Linked DNA regions of Homo sapiens. The protein of the gene in region 1 interacts with the protein of each later gene in a biochemical or structural test. Each region holds a gene or a part of one and is shown in the gene's direction. Other genes may lie near its edges.

What was found. Proteins that work in one complex are often made in the same cells at the same time.
Region 2: of the proteins of NEURL1 (region 1) and JAG1, one has a biochemical effect on the other in vitro, tested with the Homo sapiens proteins (one study listed by BioGRID).

The regions. Positions count from the first base shown.
Region 1 is NC_000010.11:103,587,424-103,593,634, forward strand, and holds the end of NEURL1 (E3 ubiquitin-protein ligase NEURL1), read left to right. Parts: intron 1-2,090; coding exon 2,091-2,237; intron 2,238-2,710; coding exon 2,711-2,949; 3' UTR 2,950-5,123; downstream 5,124-6,211.
Region 2 is NC_000020.11:10,670,600-10,678,767, reverse strand, and holds the start of JAG1 (protein jagged-1 precursor), read left to right. Parts: upstream 1-4,768; 5' UTR 4,769-5,237; coding exon 5,238-5,318; intron 5,319-5,761; coding exon 5,762-6,067; intron 6,068-8,168. UniProt on the Homo sapiens protein: Ligand for multiple Notch receptors and involved in the mediation of Notch signaling. May be involved in cell-fate decisions during hematopoiesis. Seems to be involved in early and late stages of mammalian cardiovascular development.

The DNA.
Region 1 (6,211 bases):
CAGAATTCAATATACATTCAACAAAGTGCTCCTGATCTGTTTGGAAAATTGGGCATCACAACCAGCAAATTGGTGTTTGAAGATCCTGACTGACTTCAAAAGAATAACTAACCAGTGGCAATGTATGAAGGGTCATTATTAACCTTATAGAGGAATGCTTGGCTTTGTGGCTAGCCTAAGTATACTAAAAATAGAAGGTTATTTCCTTCACTCATGTGTATCACAAAACATACAGCCAGTTCCATACTTATTGGTGAAACATCAGAAATATTCTCATGAAAGTCAGGAATATAATAGAGATGGCTTACAGATGTTGTTCTGAAAATTCTGGCCAATGCAACAAGGCAAGAAAAGTAAATAGGAGTTGTGAATTCCTGAAAGAAGGAGATGATAATTAACTTGGAAAAATATTAACACAGTAAGAGAAACCCTGTGGGCATCTATTGAATATTCTTAGAAATAATAACACAACTAAATGAATTAGAATAACTACAGATAAAAAAGATCTCATTGGGCACTTAGGTGTGTGCAGGGCATTATGTTAGGATTTGTAGGAGAGTCACAGGTGAATACTATTTCCTGTTCTAAGAAAGCTCATGGGCTGGGCGCGGCGGCTCACACCTGTAATCTCAGCACTTTGGGAGGCTGAGGCGGGTGGATCACAAGGTCAGGAGATCGAGACCACCCTGGTTAACATGATGAAACCCCGTTTCTACTAAAAATACAAAAAAAATTAGCTGGGCCTGGTGGCAGGCGCCTGTAGTCCCAGCTACTCAGGAGGCTGAGGTAGGAGAATGGTGTGAACCCGGGAGGTGGAGCTTGCAGTGAGCTGAGATTGCGCCACTGCACTCCAGCCTGGGCGACAGAGCAAGACTCCGTCTCAAAAAAAAAAAAAAAAGAAAGCTCATGGTTTCACTGGAGAAACAAAACTGGAGTCCTGGGCACAGAACAAATATTACCCCAGCCTTTGTGGTTGTGTAGTTGTATGTCTGTAGTGCATGTGTGTGTGTACTTGAGGGAGTAATGTGGTCTGGGGGTAGTCAGGGCGGCCCAGAGGAAGGAGTTTGAGGACAGCTGTCAGAGGCTCCCTGGACAGCCAGCTCTTTGAAGTCAGGGGCTGTCTCTAGCTTTCTGTCTGCACGGGGCCTGATGCCTGGTAGGTCCTTGGTAAGGATTTGTTGAAGGGAGGAGAGAAGGAAGGAGGGAAAGAGGGAGGCGAGGATTGTTAAAAAGGAGAGGAAGGCCGGGCGCAGCGGCTCACCCCAGCAATCCCAGCACTTTGGGAGCCGAGGCTGGCAGATCACGAGGTGAGGAGATGGAGACCATCTTGGCCAACATGGTGAAACCCCGTCTCTATTAAAAATATTAAAAAATTAGCTGGGTGTGGTGGCATGTGCCTATGATCCCAACTACTCAGGAGGCTGAGGCAGGAGAATCTCTTGAACCTGGGATGTGGAGATTGTAGTGAGCCGAGGTCGTGCCACTGCACTCCAGCCTGGCGACAGCGAGACTCCGTCTGAAAAAAAAAAAAAAAAAAAGGAGAGGAAGTGAGTGACGGAAGGAGGAAGGAGGGGAGGAGAGAATCTATGATCAGAACAAGGTGGGAAAAAGTGAAGGCACTGCAGAGGTGCCATGCAGAAAAGGTGGGTGATATCTGGGGACAGTGGTGAAGAGCTCAGGGCTCCGAACAGGAGGGTGAGGTTGCGGGGCAGGGGAGATGGTAATATACATGCTCCGGCCCAGGAAGCTTTGCAGAAAGCATACATGGGGAGGGGCGGAGGTAGGTGCCAGGCAGGGGCCTAGTTTGGAGCTGCTGTTTTAACAAGAAGAAAGCAGGATATGACCCTCCAGTTCATAGGTGAGAACAGAGGCCAGGCTGGGTGCTGTCTGGGGTCAAAGTCTTTAGCTGATTAGCTATACTCCACGGCGGTAATATCAAATGATCCCCGCGCCAGCCTGCAAAATCCCGCTCTTGGCCCTGTGGCTGGGCTGTGTGGTCAGGCCTGGGAACCCACTGTGAGGGACAGAGCTTTCTCCAGTTTGGCCTGGGCAGGCAGCTAGTGTGTCCTTCCCTCCCTCCCCTTTCACAGGCTCCACTATCCTGGCCGAGCGGGGTATCCCATCACTCCCCTGCTCCCCTGCCTCCACGCCAACCTCGCCCAGTGCCCTGGGCAGCCGCCTGTCTGACCCCTTGCTCAGCACGTGCAGCTCTGGCCCTCTGGGTAGCTCTGCTGGTGGTAAGTAGGCTGGCTCCTCTGTTCCTTGGTGACCATGTGGGACTGCAGCAAGGATGCAGCCTTTGTGTCCGGGGCTGGGAGTGGAGAGGAGCTGGAGTTGGGCTCAGTAAACCCTTGTTGGGGGGTGATTTCTGGGGTCATCCCCTCCTGTCCCCTAGCTGGGCAGTGCCAAAGGGTAGCTCAGGAGGGACCTACCTTAAAAGATTCTGGACCCTTTCCTTCCTCCATCTTGCCTTCTTTTCTCTCACTGCCTCCTAGCCACTCTGTCCCCTCATCTGGGGTTGGAGTGGGTCAGAAGTGGGGCTGCTCAGAGCTCAGCCTCTTCCCTTGTGCCCTGGAAGTTGGGTTGTCAGGGTGAACAGGCAGATCCTGATAAATGGAGGGGGACACAAGAGGCCGGGGAGCTCTCTTCCCGTGAATCCAGCGCCGGGTTGGGCCATGTCTCCTCCTGACTGGTGCCCCCTTGTCCTCAGGGACAGCCCCCAATTCGCCAGTGAGCCTGCCCGAGTCGCCAGTGACCCCAGGTCTGGGCCAGTGGAGCGATGAGTGCACCATTTGCTATGAACACGCGGTGGACACGGTCATCTACACATGTGGCCACATGTGCCTCTGCTACGCCTGTGGCCTGCGCCTCAAGAAGGCTCTGCACGCCTGCTGCCCCATCTGCCGCCGCCCCATCAAGGACATCATCAAGACCTACCGCAGCTCCTAGCCCGTTGCGGTGGCCCATCCCGCATACCCATCTTCTCGGGCTTCAGCCCAGTCCCAGCTGAGGAACAAGCCAGTGGGGCCCCTTCTCTTCCTCATTTTGGAAACTTTTCCTCCTCTATTAAACATGGGAAACTGAAGCCCTTGAAGGTTTGGGGAGAGGGGGGTATCAGGCAGGGAGGGGGCAGAGGCAAATCACCGGGCAGAGGGAGGGGAGGAGAGGAGGCCGCACTCTCCCTGTCTCTCCCGTCTCTGCACCCAGCTCCTCTCTGCATGCTGAGGGCTAAATTGGGATCTCAGCCTGCCCTAATCTTTCCCCATCTGAGGCAGGTTTCTAGGAGGTGTCTGTAGTCCATGTGGCACCTTTGTGAGAATTAGAAAACATGTACCTTCCTCTGGGCAGCTGCAGCCCTGAGCCAGGACATGTGGCCTGGCTAGTGCAGCATGGAGTGGATTTTAGGCTCATTTGCCCTCTCAGCCAACTGCCCTTGAGCAGTGTACAGCCTGCTCAACAACCGCCCTGGGCAGGCCGCTCCTGAGCTGCTGTCTCCCTCTCTGACCTATGCCTACCTTCTCTTTCTTCGTTCCCTGCCCACTGGGCATGGCAGCTGGGGGTGAGAGGCTGGTGGTTGCCTCCCGTCCTGGGCAGGCTGCAGCCTCATGCCATGTCTCTCTCCCACTACCTGATGGGCACATGGACAGGCTGCAGAGGGCTCCAGGTTCTGGGCCCCTGGCTGAGAAGGGGAGGATCCTGTCCTGGCTGTAGCCTTCCTGCCCCAATCATCTCGCTGGATGCCATTGCCCAGGGGTAGCCCTTCGGTATGGGCTGGGGAGAAGGGTTGGTCTTCTGCCAGGGTCCCTAAGAACAGGTTTGCAGCTACCCTCTCTGACCTTTTCCCCATATCTTGTGCTGTCCAGGGCCTAGGCTGATAGTCAGAGCCTGTGGCACACCTGGGATGGGCCAGGGCCCTGGGTGGGGAGGTGTGGGTTCCCTGGGCCAAGACCAGCCTTTTTCCTCAGTTTAATTAATTTATTTATTTGGTTTGTGGTTTTGGGTTTTTTTTGTTTGTTTGTTTGTAGGTGAGTTCCCATCCTCTGGGCCCCTAGAAATGCTGCCTTTGTGTGTGGGGTACCTGGGAAAGGGTGTGGCTGAGGCAGTCATAATGCAGTATCTTCCCCTGACTCCAGCCACAAAGCTCATACCCAGCCCTACCAATCATGAACTGGAACTCCATAAGGAGGGGCCAAATTGGGAGGCCTTTTGGCAAACAGTGTCTATTTTACAGAGAGGCAAACCAAGCCTCCTTAGTGCCCTGGGGCTGATGGTCACCCAGAGCCATAGAGCACCCTTCCTCCTGGGCCAGAGCTGGGTTATCATGGTTGGCTTAGGTACCTCAGGTGGCCCAGGAGGTCCCCCCTCCATAAGGACGTCAAACTTCCAGGAGGGCCAGTGTTCCTAGTGTGGGCCAGGAACAGGACAGGGAGACCTTGTGATGGCGGGGCAGGGAGCCTGTTCGTAGGGAAGATGAGGAGGCAAGGGCTGCCTCTCACACCTCCAGGTTCTCTAAGTTCTGGGGAGGGAGCGCCCCACCTGCTGAGGTCGGTCCTCTCAGCCCTGCCTGCCCTGGCCTGGGCTCTCCCAGCCTCCCAGCCCTCTGCCCCCTCAGATGGCTTTTTGTTTTTGTTTTTTTTTGCATCCATCAGAGACTGCACCTCTGTGTGGCAGGCAGGGCATGGGTTTTAGTCCTGGCCACTGACCAGCTGTGTGGCCCTGGCCGAGTCGTAGCCCCCTGGAGCCCAGCTTCCATTTCTATAAAATGGTTGTTTCGGGAGAGAGGGGCAGGCTTTCTGTGTGACTCGGGAGTTCTTCCGTGAGGGCTGCCAGGGGGTGGTGTGCCAGGACCTCAGGCTGGGCCTTTGTGCTGGCCTTGCAGTGGGTGTGTGGGGAAGTCACTGTCCCACTATGGGTCTCCACTACCCAGTCACTGACCCTGGGAGACCCCTTCTGTGTGGGAGGGAGCGGGGGCTGGCTAGCGGGCCCCCCAGCCAGGGATCCCAGAGGCTGAGGGTTGGGGAGAGGAAGCCATCATCTCATTACCTCTGTCAGTGCAGGGGTGGCTGCTGCTTCCCTTGTGCACTTGGGTCGCTGTGATTGTGAATAAAAGTGATTTCGTACCAGCCTGAGGGCGGTGCTGTGCGCAGAGCACTGGGGAAGGAGGGCCAGCGTGTGCGTGCACATGTGGGGGCAGGCTGGGGTGTGGAGGCCTGGTGTCCTGGATACTAGGGGAGTCATCAGGAGCTGTGGCCCTTCCCTGAGGGGTAATTGCAGGCCTCTGAGGCTTCAAGGTGGGCTGGGGCAATCAGGGAAGACTCCCTGGAGTCGGGGGCTGGAGCGTGACTTGGGTCTAGAATGCCAGGTGAGCCTTGCAAATTGGGAGAGGCTACTGCATCTGTGAGGAGCAGGGTGTGGTGGGGAAGGTGCCCTGGGATGGGGCTTCTCCTTAAGGCTGAGCAGGGCTCAAATCTGCCGCTTGTAGGGGGGTGCGCAGTGCCACCTAGGGGGCTAATGGGAGGATGACAAGTGGTCAACTCAGGTCATCAGGGGCTGTGCTCTGAGCTCCCCAGGAACAAGGCTTCCACCCCTCTCCCCAGGCTCAGACCCCCACATCTGGAGGGAGTTCAGCTGTGTTCCCACTGGTGGGTGCAGAGGCCTATACCAAATGGGTGGTGCCACTGAGGAGAAAAGGGAAGCCTCTGGATAGAGTCCTTTAGAGAAGTGTTCTAGATGCGCTAAGTGATCCGAGTGGTGGGGAAGGCTGAGGGGAGAGGGGTGGTGGGGAGGAGGCAGCCAGACTGGCCCCAAGGTCTAGGCACAGTGTTGGAATTGAGCTCATTTGGCAGCACCAGGCCTCAGAGGCACATGGGATACCTGCCTGCCCATCCTGTTCCAGGGAGGATGCTCAGGCTACCCAGCCTCTGCATGGCCTTGCACAGCCATGGCCTGTTCCTTGCATCAGGGTTACCTGGTCCTGCTTACTGGGGTCCAGCAAAAGCAGGAGAGGGTCGGGGGGCCATGCTAAGGAGCCAGCTAGGCCTGCTGGATGTGGGTCCTTGGCCCCAAGATCTGCATCTTTCAAAGCCTTGGCCACTGCCCAGAAAGCCTCCCAAAAGTGGGGAAGAGGCTGGAGGAGCTTGACCACAGCTCTCACCAAGAGTGAGAGCTGGCTCATGTCTGTAATCCCAGACTTTGGGAGGCTGAGGCAGGA
Region 2 (8,168 bases), on another chromosome or scaffold:
ACAGGTTCATGGGAGGCAGTAACCTGGCGGGACATGTGAGCTTCACTGGGCTCTGCTGGAAAGGGGCAGAAAGATAACATATCCGTGGAACAGGATTTGTGAACTTGTGTTAACATCTCTGCAAGTTCAAACAAGGAATAAGGAAGATCTTAATGGATATTTTACATGTGCCTTCTCTACAATTTGAACCTAACTGGAATGAAGAATGGGAAGAAAGAACTACTTTCCTTTCGTTCACTCTTTTTTTTTTTTTTTTTTTTTTTTTTTGAGATGGAGTTTCGCTCTTGTTGCCCAGGCTGGAGTGCAATGGTGCCATCTCATCTCGGCTCACCGCAACCTCTGCCTCCCAGGTTCAAGCAATTCTCCTGCCTCAGCCTCCTGAGTAGCTGGGATTACAGGCATGCACCACCACGCCTGGCTAATTTTGTATTTTTAGTAGAGACGGGGTTTCTCCATGTTGAGGCTGTTCTCGAACTCCTGACCTCAGGTAATCCGCCCGCCTTGGCCTCCCAAAGTGCTGGGATTAGAGGCGTCAGCCACCGCTCCCAGCCTCATTCACTCTTAAAATCTACAGTATCACCATTCCTTTGAAACACACTCTCCACTCAGTAGTGCTGAAGACCAGTATTGTGGTGTTGCCCACCATATTCTTGGCACCCACAAAATACCTGGCAAATCAATAACTATCTTCCCCAAGATTTAAGAAGGAAAATTTTCAAACATAGAAAAATGTCGAAGAATTTTGCAGTGAACACCACTGTAACACCTAAATTCTACCATTAAGACTTTACTGGCTGGGCGCTGTGGCTTATGCCTGTAATCCCAGCACTTTGGGTGGCCAAGGCAGGAGGATCATCTGAGGTCAGGAGTTTTAAAGCAGCCATGGTCAACATGGTGAAACCCCATCTCTACTAAAAAATACAAAAATTAGCCGTGTATGATGGCATGCATCTAATCCCAGCTGCTCGGGAGGCTGAAACAGGAGAATCACCTGAACCTGGGAGGCGGAGATTGCAGTGAGCCAAGACTGTGCCACTGCGCTCCAGCCTGGACAACAGGCTCTGTCTCAAAAAAACAAAAAAAGACTTTACTATTTTGCTTCAGCGTGTAACCACCCACCCAGCCATCCTCTCTGATCCCTCTAATTTTGTATGCATTTCAGTGTCAGTTGCAGATATCATTCCACTTCCCCGCTAAATGCTTCAGCACTCATATAACTGGAGGTGAATATCTGTTCACAATTCTTTTTTCCTCTTTTGAACACCTAATGAAATACAATCTTAAATGTACTATTTAATAAATTTTGACAAATGCATACACCTGTGTAGCCCAAACACCTATCAAAAATATGAAACATTACCCCACAATGCCACCAGAAGAGCCTCAAGCCCATCCCAGTGAAGCTCTGCTCCCACCCACCCACCCTCAAAATCACTCTTGTGATCTTTTTTCACCAGTTTTTCCTGTTCTGGAACTCCGTATAAATAAATTCATACAGGATGTAGTCTTTTGTGTCTGGCTTATTTCACTTAACATAATATTTTTTAGATCATCGATGTTACTGCTTATAATAGCAGTTCTCAATAAATATTGATTAGCTTATTTTAACCACAGTGTTGATTAACCAAGGATTACAGTTGATTAGATGTACTTAAATACAGCTAATATAGCTTGAATGTCTCTTATAAAGCTTTTGCAGGTTCAGAACTGCTATATGTTGTTGACTAGATAAAAGTGGGGCAAGTTTTCTGGGAAAAGAAAAAATGAGGCATCCATCATCTTTTTAGAATTAAAGGAAAAGATATCCAAGGATGATGTTTGAGCACACGAGACAGGTCAGATAGTAACTGACTACAAGCCTCTCCCCTTCTCTCAGGTGTAGGTATGACAGCTAAAGATGGCATTTTCCACAGGAAGGTTGTTCTGGAATATTCATTTACACTTGGAGGCTATACCCCAAAGCAGGACAAGCCCTGCCAAGGGGGAATCTCTGTATTTCAGTTCTCTCGGCAGCAGTTCCTCATTCTCTAAGGAGGGGGCCTGACAACCGGCTTCAAGGAAGCAGAGGATAGAGCTTCCACTCAGTGTCTGTTGTGGTAAACGTGACTGGCTTTTTGGGGGAGTCCCAATTATTTGGAAGAGCCCCAACTGAAAATTTTCAAAAGAATTCCCTCTAGCCCACAACTGCCTTCTCTAAAAGTGGGTTCCCAGGCTCAGGAAGGGTGTGGGACTCTGTGCTATGTGACATAAAAATTTTGTGTTTATCAGTGATTTGACATTCTTGTTAGGTGTAATCAGGTAGTTTTCACCTCTCAGAGTTTATATTTTCTTTCCTATCAGTCAAATGGGCTAAATTCACTGGTGGACTGGAGGTGACACCAGCTTGCATGTGGCCCAGATTGCAACTGGTGGCACCTGCAATCTCAGGTAGCCCTTCTAGGTGAAGCCAGGTGGAGATCTAAACACTTTAACTAAAGGTCTGGCTCCGCAGCCTCTTTCCTGAGAGCTGTGGGGGGCACAAGGCACAGAATTAAAACAGGGTCCGACATAGGGAACTCCAAGGAGTGTGCTCTTTAAGATCACACCAGCCTTTTTCAGCACCATTTTGCCTTTTTTTTTTTTTTTTTTTTTTTTGAGATGGAGTCTCGCTCTGTCGCCAGGCTGGAGTGCAGTGGCATGATCTCAGCTCACTGCAACCTCCGCCTCCCAGGTTGAAGCTATTCTCCTCTCTCAGCCTCCCGAGTAGCTGGGACTACAGGTATGTGCCACCACGCCCAGCTAATTTTTGTATTTGTAGTAGAGACCGGGTTTCACCATGTTGACCAGGATGGTCTCAATCTCTTGACCTCGTGATCCACCCGCCTCGGCCTCCCAGAGTGCTGGGATTGCAGGCGTGACCCACAGCTCGCGGCCCATTTTACTTTTAAACCGTTATTTAGCACCCAAACTCAGGGATACTTGGGAGTAGAAATTAGAACGGGACAGATAAGTGGGGAGACTGGTGTTGATGGAAACCTCAGTGAGAAAAGTGTAGATGGGATTACAGTTGACAACTGGTTGCCTTGATTTAGGATAATTGGGGAAAGGGAGGCTGGGGCACATTGAAACACCCAGGTTGTCGCTGCCTACCCCAGCTGCTAACATGACCAGCTGTAAACTTGCTCTGTTCTTAGAAACCTCCCTTCCAAAACATGGATTCTCCCGCCAGTGCTCAAGATGGGACACATTACCACTAAGTAAGCACTTTTCTTAGGAGCATTTCTTAGGCTGTTAAAATGCCAAGACTCCTAACCATCCTTGGTAGCTTTGAACCTATGTAAAGAGGTCAGTTAGCTGCCCTAGTTTATTCCTCAGAATGATGAGATTTGGCACTGAAAATATTGTTCATACTGAGCCTCCCATCAAATGCAATAAGTAGATAACCACAAATACCCACCCTTTTATGCTCATAACTCAGCATGTTGGAAACTATTTTCCCTTGACCTATTGCCAGCCCATCACGCCCCACACCCAGGAGAACTCAAGCCCCAAACCGGCCGCTGAATAGTCACGCTTTTCTGCAGGACATACCTACTATTAGGGCCAAAACTTTGTCCACCCTTCAAAGGAAGTCGATGTTTCCATATAAAGGTCCCCTCAAATGCAACAGCAAGCCCGTGGGAGAGGGGTTAGCAGAGGCTACGGCCAGCCCACGGGCTTTCTTCGACCTTGATTATGACCAGGAGTGTAGCTGTTAATTGCGAGGCTTGCCTCAAGGTGGAAAACAGTATCGGTTTCCACTGCCACCCCAGAGAAGGCAAGTTCCGCGGCTGGCGGTGCTGGGGACACGGTCCCTCCCAGGCCCATCTCTTGCCACCCAGAGAGCTGCTCGGAGGCCGCCTACAGGTGCAATCCCGGCACTGCGGCCGGGGCGTCGGGCCGGGGAGGGCGTCCAAGCCCACCAGCATCTCCGCCGGCCCTTCCCAAAGCCTGAACAGGGCCCCGGCGTGCCCGCCGCCTTCTACCCCCGGTTTCCCCGCGCCTCTGCCCCGGCGCGGTTTGGATAGGAAGCTGGGAGCCCTCCCAGGCTCCGCAGACTCGGATTTGGGAGGGGGTGGGACGCGGCCGAGGCTTCCCCTCGAATCTGCGGCAAGCCTGGCTCCAGGAAAGTTTTTCAAAGTTCCCAGCAGCGTCTGCCCAGGTCGCCTCCGCGGGGCGAGCAGACGGCGGCAAGCGCGCCAGCCTCGCCGCCGCCTCTGCCGCCAGCAGAGCGCTCTGGGCGGCTCGCTCGCGGGAAGCGGGCCGAACTCCCGGCGGGCAGGCAGGCCCTCCTCCCGGGGCGAAAGCCGCAGCTGACGCAGGCGGTTCGGAAGGCGGAAGCTGCCCCGCTCCGACCGCTCAGTCAGCGCCGCGGCGCCTACACCTGGGGCCCCGACGCGCGGGCAAAGGCGCACGGCCCGGGGCGCCCGAGGGGGCGGTCCCCGCTGGGGGCCTCCAGGCGTCCCTGAGCAACGATCCCTTCCAAGTACCTCCCCGCACTCTCCCTTCCCTCCTGGCCCGAAGCTCCCGAGGGCGGGGGTTGGTGTGGGGCCCTGGTTCTTCTACGCCGCCCTGAGCATCCCGCTGCCCCCAACCCCTTCCAAGTTCCTCCTCGCACTACCCCCTCCCCAGCAACGTGAAGGGGAGGGGCGTGCCCAGGGTGAGCACGCCCTCTCATGAATATTAATAAGCGCGCATGCGCCCTGCCCGGCGTGCTGGGTAGAGGTGGCCAGCCCCGGCCGCTGCTGCCAGACGGGCTCTCCGGGTCCTTCTCCGAGAGCCGGGCGGGCACGCGTCATTGTGTTACCTGCGGCCGGCCCGCGAGCTAGGCTGGTTTTTTTTTTTCTCCCCTCCCTCCCCCCTTTTTCCATGCAGCTGATCTAAAAGGGAATAAAAGGCTGCGCATAATCATAATAATAAAAGAAGGGGAGCGCGAGAGAAGGAAAGAAAGCCGGGAGGTGGAAGAGGAGGGGGAGCGTCTCAAAGAAGCGATCAGAATAATAAAAGGAGGCCGGGCTCTTTGCCTTCTGGAACGGGCCGCTCTTGAAAGGGCTTTTGAAAAGTGGTGTTGTTTTCCAGTCGTGCATGCTCCAATCGGCGGAGTATATTAGAGCCGGGACGCGGCGGCCGCAGGGGCAGCGGCGACGGCAGCACCGGCGGCAGCACCAGCGCGAACAGCAGCGGCGGCGTCCCGAGTGCCCGCGGCGCGCGGCGCAGCGATGCGTTCCCCACGGACGCGCGGCCGGTCCGGGCGCCCCCTAAGCCTCCTGCTCGCCCTGCTCTGTGCCCTGCGAGCCAAGGTAGGAGCCCTTCTCCGGGCCTCCCTCCCAGCCGTCCTCTCCCTCCCCTCGCGGCGCCCTGGGCGGTTGAGCCCCGCGAGCAGGCTCGGCAGCCCTCGAGCGCCCGACTCCTCGCCCCTGCGCCCGAGCGGCTGCACCTGGGCTGAGCGCGCCAACTCCCCCACGGGAGCCCCTGCCTCCTGAGGGTGACCCCTCCAGGCCGGACAGGGGCGCGTTCGCTCCGCTGTTGCCCCCCGGGAAGTCGTCGGATTTCTTCCGCACTCGTGCATTTTTTTTTTTTTTTGCCCCGGAATCATGTTGAGTCCTTGAACGTAGTTTCGCAAAATTATTTTCACTCGGCGAGGAGGGCTCGTCGGGGCGGGGAGTGGGAGGGAGTCGCCACCTCTATACTCGAAGAAAACAGCTTTCTCCCGCGCTGACCTACCTCCTTCCCTCGCCGGCAGGTGTGTGGGGCCTCGGGTCAGTTCGAGTTGGAGATCCTGTCCATGCAGAACGTGAACGGGGAGCTGCAGAACGGGAACTGCTGCGGCGGCGCCCGGAACCCGGGAGACCGCAAGTGCACCCGCGACGAGTGTGACACATACTTCAAAGTGTGCCTCAAGGAGTATCAGTCCCGCGTCACGGCCGGGGGGCCCTGCAGCTTCGGCTCAGGGTCCACGCCTGTCATCGGGGGCAACACCTTCAACCTCAAGGCCAGCCGCGGCAACGACCGCAACCGCATCGTGCTGCCTTTCAGTTTCGCCTGGCCGGTGAGTGACTACTCGGGAAGGAGGCCGGGCGGAGCCTCACACCCGCGCCTGGCCGAGCCCTGTTATCCCTTGCGAGAGGGATTTAAAGGGCTTTGGCTTGAAACTAGGCGCTAACTGGGGAAATCTCTAGGGGTGGCGGGTGAGGGAGCCGGGACACTATAGTTAGATCTCGGCTGGGGTAGTCGAGGTGGGTCCCATTCCTGCTGCTATTTGCTTAGTGCACAAAAGTGGGGATCCCAGAGGGTTTATGGGACCAGGCTCCTAGGAAGGCCGGTGTAAACTTGCAACTTGAAGTTCCCAGAGTAACTCTCCCGGCCCCAAGCCAAGAGATCGTTGTAGCTGATCTCTTTGCTTAACTAATTAAACCTGGTGCGCCGTGGAAGGCGACTCGGCGCAGTTCTGGCCTGCGAACGCCGTCCAAATTGGCAACCTCCCCTTTCCCGTGAACGGCCGGGAGGGCGGGTGTGTCCTTCCTGGAGGGTGTGGGGGAGTCCGTTTCCCGCTGCTCCCCGGGAGATTTTAGTGTGTGCGGGGGCGCTCTCCAGGTTCGGCTTAAGGGCCGGGGGCGGCCGCCGCAGGAGGAGGTTCTTGGGGCCCTCACAGGAGCTGTAGACCTGGGAACCCCCGCCCGCTGCTGGCCCCTTCCTGCCCCCGCCCCCGAGTGGTGTAGCTCTTGTGGCCTCACTTCCAGCGGTTCCCGGGCTCTGGAACAGCTGTGTTTGCAGACTTCCCCGGGAAGGGCGGGTGCACGGCCCCCGCAAGCCTTCGGGGGCCGTGCCAAGGCTTGGAAGGGGTGGTCTTCTGGAGGTAGTGCCTGAGGGTGTAAGTGATAGGCCCTCATCCCCCCGCCCCATTCCGCCCCCAAAGGAGCTCGAGGCCCGGGCCCAGCTGGCAGATCCTGCAGCGAGGCCCTTGCAACATCCCAAAATGGGTGGAAGGAAGATGGGTGCGATTGCAGAAGGGGAGGAAAGGGAAATGTTGGGGGTGTGCCCTCTGCCTGGCTCCTGCTGTCCAGGAGGCATGACTCATTGCCAAGACTGGGGCTTGGCCTAGCCTGTGCTGGGAGGGTGGGTGGTGAGAGGGGGAGCTCGGTGCCCCAGAGCATTGCTTTCCACCACGTGCTCTAATGGGGTGCACTCTGCTGCCTCCTGTCCGCCGGCTTAGGTTGTGATTCTGGGAGGAGACAGAGGGGAGACTATCTGGCTGTGTCTGTGTATGAAGCTTGGGGTGGCTCTTAAAATCCACGATTACAGGAGCTGGCATTATAAAGTGCCCTCTGCTGTGGGTGAGATAAGACAGTTATCAAAAACTGCCATGAAAAGGGGTTTATAAAAAGAAAAATTAAAACCAACGCTGTCTGTGAAGCTCTCTTGAGGTCCAAGGGCTGTTTCTGTTGTGGGATTTCATTTTTACCAAGAGTATTTATCTTGTTTGTTAATCCCCTATTAGGGAGAACTTTAAGCTAAAGAGTCTGGCTGCGTTTAAATCTGGCTGGCCCAAGCTGACTGTGAATACTCAAACTGCCCTTGAACGTGTGTTTGGAGTTTAGGGGGAAGGGGCCTGCAGGTGGTTCCACCCTCCTGCCGGAGGATCTGTCTGGAGCCCCTCGCTTTTCACAAGACCATAAAAGGAATCTTATTAGTGATGTGGAAAAGCAGCAGCCTGGCTGAGGCTCATTTTGGAGAGTAGGGTCAGAGGGATGGCTAACATGAAAACAAGGAGGCTTGCTCCCTCGCTGGCCAAGGAAAAGTGACCTAGAAAAGTGCGTCTGTCCGCTTTTGACACTTGGTCAGAGTCCTCAATGGAAAACGAGCGGAAATAGTGTGGGAGGGTAGGAGAGGCGATTGATTTGCATTTGCTGGTGCTCTTCTGTGGTTTCAGGCCCCACGGGTCACCAACCATGAAATAGACTCTCGGCTTTTCTCGAATGGGGGAAGACCGATGGGGCACCACTGAAAATGTGGTTCTTTTGAAGTTGGGACAAACGCATGTATCACTCATAAACAAGTCTCCACCCTGATGCCCCAGAAAGGCCTGCTGTGAAACATAAGATTTAATTCTCAAGAGAAATTGGAGTTTAGGTGTATTTGTTTTTCTGTAT